Regions from separate parts of the Homo sapiens genome. Here region 2 is linked to region 1. Evidence: fine-mapped expression QTL. A gene starts in region 1. The other region holds a variant in brackets. All regions are shown on one strand. Distances are from middle to middle. Region 1 holds the start of KLHL5 (kelch like family member 5). Region 2 overlaps RFC1 (replication factor C subunit 1).

Evidence for each region. PIP is the estimated chance that this variant, and not a neighbour inherited with it, causes the effect. A credible set is the group of variants that fine-mapping cannot tell apart.
Region 2: its variant is the best candidate, but not a certain one, in a credible set for the expression of KLHL5 in whole blood (TOPMed, PIP 0.72).

The regions. Positions count from the first base shown.
Region 1 is chr4:39,059,945-39,064,347 of GRCh38, forward strand. KLHL5 (kelch like family member 5) reads left to right here and starts at 2,288. Exons shown (of 11, transcript NM_015990.5): 1 at 2,288-3,091. The coding sequence starts at 2,709.
Region 2 is chr4:39,344,721-39,349,123 of GRCh38, forward strand. It overlaps RFC1 (replication factor C subunit 1), which reads right to left. Exons shown (of 25, transcript NM_002913.5): 3 at 681-756. Among named protein-coding and RNA genes, the nearest start is that of RFC1, 19 kb to the right of the region's middle. The variant A/T (reference allele first, on the strand shown) is at 1,890.

The DNA.
Region 1 (4,403 bases):
ACTCCTGGCAATAAATTCTGTAGATATAAAAGCCTCACAAGGATGTTTCTTTCAACATTATTTTAATGGCAAAAACCCAAAAACCTGAAATCAACCTGAATGCCCATTAGCAGGGAGATAGTTTAATAAATTGGTTTTTTTACAGTAATGAAATATCATGTAACTCTTAAAAAGATTATTAATTTATATTTCCATGTATATATAAAATTAGGTGAGAAGAGCAAAATGCTAAAAGATGAATACAATATGATCTCTTGTATAACAATAGCAAATCTCTTATATATGTGTATATAAGTTTGTCCATGATTTATAAACATGGAGAGAGGTGTGAAAGGCTATATGTACCAAGCTTGGCGTCAGCAATGATTACCATGGGAATGAGTGGAGGAGGATTGGCAAAATAAAGGTATCATTTTTCATTGCCAGATGTTTGCTGTCTCTGGCCCCTGCACACTCAATGCCTATAGCACTCTGGTCATTCCAACAACTAAAAATCTACCACCACCACCACCACCACCACCTATTTTCCAGAAGCCTTTAGGAGCAGGTTGATGCTTCCCTTGTTGAGAACCAGCTACTTAGAGTAACTGAAGTGTTTACAAAGATGATAGTGCCTGAGCTAAATCTTGAAGGATGAAGTGTGTTTTTTAAACCAGAGTTTCTCTGGGAGGCAAACAGTGTTATAAAAGAGGGAACACCATAATGTAGACTGCCTTGACCAATGAAGTGGTGTGTCTATGTTGGAAAATGGTTAGAAATAAAGTTGGATAGCTAGAGTGAAGTTAGAAGGATGTTGATCAGAAGGAGTCTGACAAAGGTGAGAGGAGAGGGGAAAGTGTCATTTCACTCTCTAATGCGTCCTGCACAGTACTGCCAAGTTAATTTCCTAAAACATTGTCCTGTTCAACAGTCCATTCAATAATGTCTTTGCTGCTTGCTCAAGGCATTTTATCTCATCGTATTCATCTAACTTTATCTCTTACTACACCTTAAAATTAATTTGGTATGGCTGGCTGATCAAACTGATTATTTCCCACTTCTTCCTTGTAGATATGCCCACTTCATGCTTTTATTAGAATCTTTTTCTGTAGAAATCTATCATTCTACCTAAACAATGTTTTACTATTCTTAGCAGCCTTCTCCCTAATGAAACTGGCCCATACCACTCCATTGCCATCCTGATATCTCCTTTCTTTCTTACAGTTTGTATGGTTTTTCCCGTATTATTTAGCATGAAATCATACTTGGCTTTTTATGCTTCTCATTCTTGTTTCTCTGAATAATTTGTATTAAGATAGACACCTCACAATATTTTTGTAAGCCTCCAAAGTAGTTTTTGTTTTTGTTTTTTGGTCAGCTTAGATAGGCATTGCCTTTTGTATGGAATTAGTTGATAAAGGAGTAAATACTGAGCACCCTGAAAACTCAAATTCTGCATTGATAGATCACACTTTAATATTGCAGCATTTTAATGTTTCTTATTTTACCTTATCAAATATTTTGTATTTGGTTCAATAGCTAGATTTAATTATTTTGGGGGTTAGGAACCAAGATATATATATCTCTGTGTCCCTGACAATGCCTAGTAGATTGCATTGTTCACAATAACTACTCAGTATTTTTGAGTTTATTTGTATTTGCTTTATCAATTTGCCTTAACTGTAACCATGTTCAAACCATTGTTTGTTTTGCTAACAACAGAGGGCACCATTAGGGCACTTGTACACCCAATAGTCCTATCCCAGTCCCTGGTAGCTTTTTTGAGCCGCACTTTTCCTTTTCCTAAGTAATGTCATAGAAATTTGGATGTTACACTAACTGGCAGTGGCCCATTTCTACTTATAGAGAAATCCTGGCCTCAGTTTATTTGAAAAAGAGTATTTGTTACATTTTGATCCTTTGTAGTTTTCAAACTTTTTATTCTCCTCATTATTCTTTATCCAAGTGAAATCTTACCCAGGATCTTACTGTATTAATTAGATCCATTTGTTTTCTGAAGGGAGAAGATAGAGGTGAAGGCAATAGTCTGGAGCCCCACCTTTGTACTCCGCTTTCCTCCTCATTCCCCATCCAAAGAGCACACCTGGAAAATCACCATAACTCATCTAATTTTACAAATGCTTTTTTAAAAACTTGTTTTGTGGTATTTCACTTAGGGACTTAGTTTAGAAATAGAAACATTTTAGTTTTAAAGTGATTATTTTTAAGTACAAAGGGAAATGCTATAGAATACATTTATTGTTTCAGCAATGAAAGAGTTAATATACTAAGCAGCAGAGACTGAGATACTGCAACGGGGATAGTGTTTTCTGTCTCTGTCATTTGTGGTTTAAGAAAAAGGGGGTGGTGTTCTGCATTTGAAAGGACTTTAATGAATGCTGTCAGTGTTTGTGAGACCTAATGGTCAGTATGGGAAAGGAGAGCCGGGAAAGTGGTCTAGCTGCTTCAGGATAGGTGGATGAGAGTTTGCTCTGATTGAACGGAATGTTCCACCGTGTTTCATCTTTATTCATTATCCTTTGTTCTTTAAAATCTGATATATTGGCATAAAAGTAATTGTAGATATATATATGAATGTGATTTATTTTCCTTTACATATTTTTGTTGTGTACAGCAGGGCATATACTTCTCTTGTCTTGGTTGGATGCACAAATCTGTGTGCAGTGCTTTTTGCCCGTTGCCTAGACGATCACTTGGTTTCTCTGAGGATGTCTGGTTCTCGTAAAGAGTTTGATGTGAAACAGATTTTGAAAATCAGATGGAGGTGGTTTGGTCATCAAGCATCATCTCCTAATTCTACAGTTGACAGCCAGCAGGGAGAATTTTGGAACCGAGGACAGACTGGAGCAAACGGTGGGAGAAAGTTTTTAGATCCATGTAGCCTACAATTGCCTTTGGCTTCAATTGGTTACCGAAGGTCCAGCCAACTGGATTTTCAGAATTCACCTTCTTGGCCAATGGCATCCACCTCTGAAGTCCCTGCATTTGAGTTTACAGCAGAAGATTGTGGCGGTGCACATTGGCTGGATAGACCAGAAGTGGATGATGGCACTAGTGAAGAAGAAAATGAATCTGATTCCAGTTCATGCAGGTTGATTATTTTCTTACTGTTAGAAAAGGGGTGTGGGGGTATGGCTCTATAATGTTTTTAAATAATTTAGTATTTATTATTTAAAATCTGATTATATATGTACATCTGCATACATATATATAATATCTTGGTATGAACATGTGATACTTCTGCTAGGGTTTTTTTAATGTTCTAATAGTCTGTAAAATTACAAAGACAACAAATAGCATTCATTTTGAAATATCTTGTGTTCTATATATAGATCTGGCTCAGCTTTGAAAATAATATATAGTAGCAATTTCATGTATCATTGCCTGTGGTTTGCTTCATTCATTAACCTTCTATATTCATATCAAAACTATAGAAGATATTTCTATAGTATGAAATTTTATGTGACATTTTAGTTTATAACAGATGATAGAGTCATTTTTTAATTTAATGAAAAGGAAAGGTTTTGCAAAGAGATGCACATTATAGTCACCAATTTTTTGACACAATTGTAGTTGTCAATAATATTTTTCTTATGGTTATTTCTCTTTGTCCTGTCTGTGTTACAGCTCTCCAGACTAATATAGAGAATACTAAGTAACATGTCTCTAAGATGACAGCTACTAATTCCTGTTACCTTCACTTTCACTGAAATGTGTGCTATTTAGGGAAATGAAGGACATTCCTCCAGGAGAGTTTAAGGGAATGTAGAGGGGCTAGATGTGATTATCTGGTGAAAAGGGGACAGGAAGAAGGGGAAATCAGTTAGAAGAAAGAAAATAAGGAAAAAAATAGGTAATTTCATAGTGACTTTATCTACCTTTATCTTGGAATCTGCCTTTATCTTTGAAATGGATTTTCTTATTCATCAGTTTAAACTACAATAAGATTATATAACAACTTAGAGCATGAAAGTCATCTTTCTGATTAATCTTCATTCGAAAATATTTCTAAATATTTAAAGGCACAAATAGCTTATCATTTGTCTAATTTGATTATTATATTTTTCTCTTAAAATTTCTGTGCAGCTTTTGATAACACTTGTAATTTGTAAGTTGGTTATTAATGATGTAGGTGTCATATGGATTGAGACAAAATGAATTTATATATTTAAGTGTCTCTTACTTGAGGATATTTACCACCTTTTCCTCTTCTAACCTTAAGAATGTGGACTTGGAAGGATAAAAAATGTTTACTCTAGTCATCTGTCATCTTCTGTGTAATGGAGAGAGGGGAATATCTGTATGTAGGTAAATAGTGTATTTAATTTAAATTTTTTTTAATTAGTTCATGACTTGGCATTATCTTAAGGGAATAGAAGCCACTAATTTAATTTGGAGATCAA
Region 2 (4,403 bases), 280 kb after region 1:
GTTGCAGTGAGCCCAGATCGCACCACTGCACTCCAACCTGGGCAACAGGGCAAGACTGTCTCTAAATAAATTAATTAAATTAAATAAAAACACATATATCACATTCAAAATAAGTTTGACAAATGCTGCATACTATATCACTTTCTGAAGGAATCTTTAATACAAACATATTTTGGTTCTGATAAGTTCTATAATAAAATTGTTTGAAATTTTACTTGAGCATACAGCCCTCTTCTCACAGGACTTATTAACATCTCAGAGAGCTACGTATCTCAGAACATAGTTGATTTATTTATTTATAATTTTTTTGTTTTTTCTTGAGACAAAGTCTCACTACCCAGATTGGAGTGCAGTGGCGATCTTGGCTCACTGCAACCTCTGCCTCTGGGATTCAAGCAATTCTCATATCTCAGCCTCCTGAGTAGCTGGGATTGCAGGCGCGTGCCACCACGCCCAGCTAATTTTTGTATTTTTAACAGAGAAGGGGTTTCACCATGTTGGCCAGGCTGGTCTCGAACTCCTGACCTCAAGTCATCTGCCTGCCTTTGCCTCCCAAAGTGCTGCGATTGCGATTACAGGCATGAGCCACCGCACCCATCCTTAGAACATAGTTTAAAGCACTGTTCTAAGGGATATACAATAACTTTAAAATTTTAAAGCTCCTCAGAAGAAATTATTACCTGAATCATAGATGATCCTCTTTTTCTTGCTTGGTTGCTTTTGTTTGAAGTCATCCTCTTTACGGGAGCTATTTACCTATAAACATCACAATATAATTAGAACATAAAGAAGCCTATATAACTATCTTTTTTTTTTTTGAGACGGAGTCTCACTCTGTCATCCAGGCTGGAGCGCAGTGGCACGATCTCGGCTCACTGCAAGCTCCGCCTCCCAGGTTCACGCCATTCTCCTGCCTCAGCCTTCTGAGTAGCTGGGACCACAGAAACCCGCCACAATGCCTGGCTAATTTTTTGTATTTTTAGTAGAGACGGGGCTATCCTTTTTTCTCGTTAGATTTGGGCTCAGTCGTTTTAACCAGGGGGAATTTTGCATCCCCGCCCCCCAGAAGGCATTTGTCAATGTCTAGAAACATTTTTACTTATCACAAATGGGGGTAGGGAGGTTTACTGTCATGTAACAGGTAGATCAGGGATGCTACTAAACATCCTACAATGCACAGGACAGTCCTCCACAACAAAGAATTCTCCAGACTAAACTGTCAGTAATATACCCTTATTGGCTAAAAATAGGCCAGACAGTAACTGTACCACAATGGGAAAAAAATAATTACAGAAAACGCTATATTATTATTCAGCTCCATTTTCAACACTAACCTATGTATACAACAAAGAATAAAAGGATATCAGATATTACAAGGCAAGTGCTTCCTGAAAATGAAACGACAGAAACAGGAATAAATGCTAAGCTAGTGGCCTACCACTAGCCAATGCCTGTTAGGAAACTAAATAGAACCAGCCAGGCTCAGTGGCTCACGCCTGTAATCCCAACACTTTGGGAGGCCGAGGCGGGCAGATCACCTGAAGTCAGGAGTTCAAGACCAGCCTGACCAACATGAAGAAACTCCGTCTCTACTAAAAATACAAAATTAGCCAGGCGTGGTGGTACATGCCTGTAATCCCAGCTACTTGGGAGGCTGAGGCAGGAGAATCGCTTGAACCTGGGGGGCAGAGGTTGCAGTAAGCCAAGATCGCGCCATTGCATGCCAGCCTGGGCAACAAGAGCAAAATTCCGTCTCAAAAAAAAAAAAAAAGTACTAAATAAAACCAATGCAAAAGGTATTATTATATATTTTGTAGTTAAACATCACATTTCTAACATATTCAAATTTTCTCAGAAAGCATCAAGAAGGCAGTGAAAAAACTGATTGT[A/T]ATCAATTATAAGGTAGAAATAGAAACTATTTCTATCCATTATAATAAAACTTCAAAAACATAAGAACAATCAACTAGCTTGCAAGAAAATGGAACAAATGAGCAATTATAATTTATATATACCACTGGATCAAGGACAGAGTCAGAATCAACCACACCTCAAAAGTAAGAGAAGAAGGTATCAAGTAAAGGAGAAAGCCACAGAAAGAAATCCCAAATTCTGCCTGTAAACTTTACCCAAATCTCTGGCTATCTCCTGAATTATACATATGTGGAACAACTCCTATAGCTTAGCTAAGGTTAAAAGAATTGAATAAAGATTTCAGCTGCTGCCCATTACAGGGGAGACAAGAGTTTGGAGCTTGAGTACAGCCAAGATCAATGCCTGATAAACCAAAAGAACACTCTTTGAAGGAATAACAGGATCCAAAGTTCCTACACTGTATCGTTCACAATGTCCAAGATAAATCCAAAATAACTAGAACATGCAAAGAGGAAATGTGACCTGTGGAGGCTAATTTCATATGTGAACCTGACTGAACCACAAGATGTCCAGATATTTGGTCAAACATCATATTAGGTGTTTCTACAAGGGTGTTTTTGAATGAGCTTAATATTTAAATCAATTGACTAAGTAAAGCAGACTGCCCTCCCTAATGGCATTAAGCCTCATCTAATCAGCTGAAAGCCTGGAAAGAACAAAGGCCAACCCTCTGCTGAATGAGAGGGAATTCCTCCTGCCCGACTGCCTTAGAGCTGGGATATCTCTGGGACACTTTCTTCCTGCCGTTGGACTCCAACTAAAACATCAGCTCTACCAATTCTTGGTAATAAATCTCTCTATGTATACACACATACATCCTATTGGTTCTGTTTCTCTACAGAACTCTGACTGTATAATACAGATTTTGGTACCAAGAAATGGGATACTACTATAAAACAAACAAACAAACAAAAACAAAACAAAACCTAAAATACAGAAGTGACTTTGGAACTGGGGAGAGGCTAGATATTTTCTAGCATGTAGAAAAAGCCTAGACTGCCATGAAGGAACTGCTGGTAGAAATATGAACGTTAAATGTAATAACAATGAGAGCTGATGAAGAGAAGAGAAGAGCTAGAGAAGAAGCCTCTTTCATCTCAGAGAATACATATATCATCATGAACAGAATGTTGGTATAAATATGAATGTTAAAGGCCAACCTGGTAAGGTTTTACATGGAAATGAGAAAGAGATTATTGGAAATTGGAAGAAAGACAATTCTTATTATAAAGTGGCACAGAACTTGGCCAAGTTGTGTCCTAGTGCTTTGTGAAAGATGGAACCTGTGAATGATGAAATCAGATATTTAGCTGAGGAGATTTCAAAGCAAAATCTTGAAGATGCGGCCTGAGTCCTCCTGACTGCTTGTAGTCAAATGCAAAACGGAAGAGATGAACTAATGAAGAAACCGGTCAGCCAAAAGGGACCAGAACTTGAAGATTTGTAAAATTCTCAGCCTGTCCGTATTTCAGAAAATGAAAAAGCAAGTTCTAGGCCAGGTGTGGTGGCTCACGCCTGTAATCCCAGCATTGTGGGAGACAGGCCAATCACTTCAGGTCAGGAGTTTGAGACCAGCTTGGCCAATATGGTAAAACCCCATCTCTAGGAAAAATACAAAAAATTAGCTGGACATGGTGGCACGCGACTATAGTCCCAGCTACTCAGGAGGCTGAGGCAGGAGATTCACTTGAACCTGGGAGGCAGAGGTTGCAGTGAGCCGAGATTGCGCCACTGCACTCCAGTCTGGGCAACAGAGCAAGACTCTGTTTCAAAAAAGAAAAGAAAAGAAAAGAAAAGAAAAGAAAAGAAAAGAAAAGAAAAGAAAAGAAAAAGCATGTTCTAAAGAGAATAGCAACGGTGTAGCTGGAGTATCACTTGATAAAGAGATTATGGGATTATACAGGCAAAAACACTGTCAGTTTGAATTGAAGAGGATGGAGAAAGGACAAAATGAAAGAAGGCTGTCAGACTTCTGAGATTCCAGTGACAGGACAACACAGCTATTCTTCAAGAAAAGGGAAGAATGGCCCCAAAAGCAATTCAGAGATCAACCATCAGAACTCCCTCTTCAAAAGATGGAGCTTGGTTTCAACAGATGAGACAGCCACCACCCAAAGCCTTGTGGGCAGGATGGCCCAGCAGAGCTGCAGAAGCAGGACAGCTGCCTGTGACTGTGGGGGTAGGGCCACTAACCCAGTGGGTCTAGAGGGCAGGGCATCAAGCCAAAGAGTTTATTTTCAAGGCTTATGTTCTGATTGAATTTGCCTTGCTAGGTTTTGGACTTGTTTGGGATCCATCACCCCTCCCTCCCTTCTGATTTCTCCTCTTTGGAATGGTAATGTCTATCCTATATGTCTGTTCTACTATCATATTTTAGAAGCACATTCCTTATCTGGTTTCACAGGTTCACAGCAAAAGAAAATTTTCCCTCAGGATGATTCATACCTCAAGTATCACCCATATCTGATTTG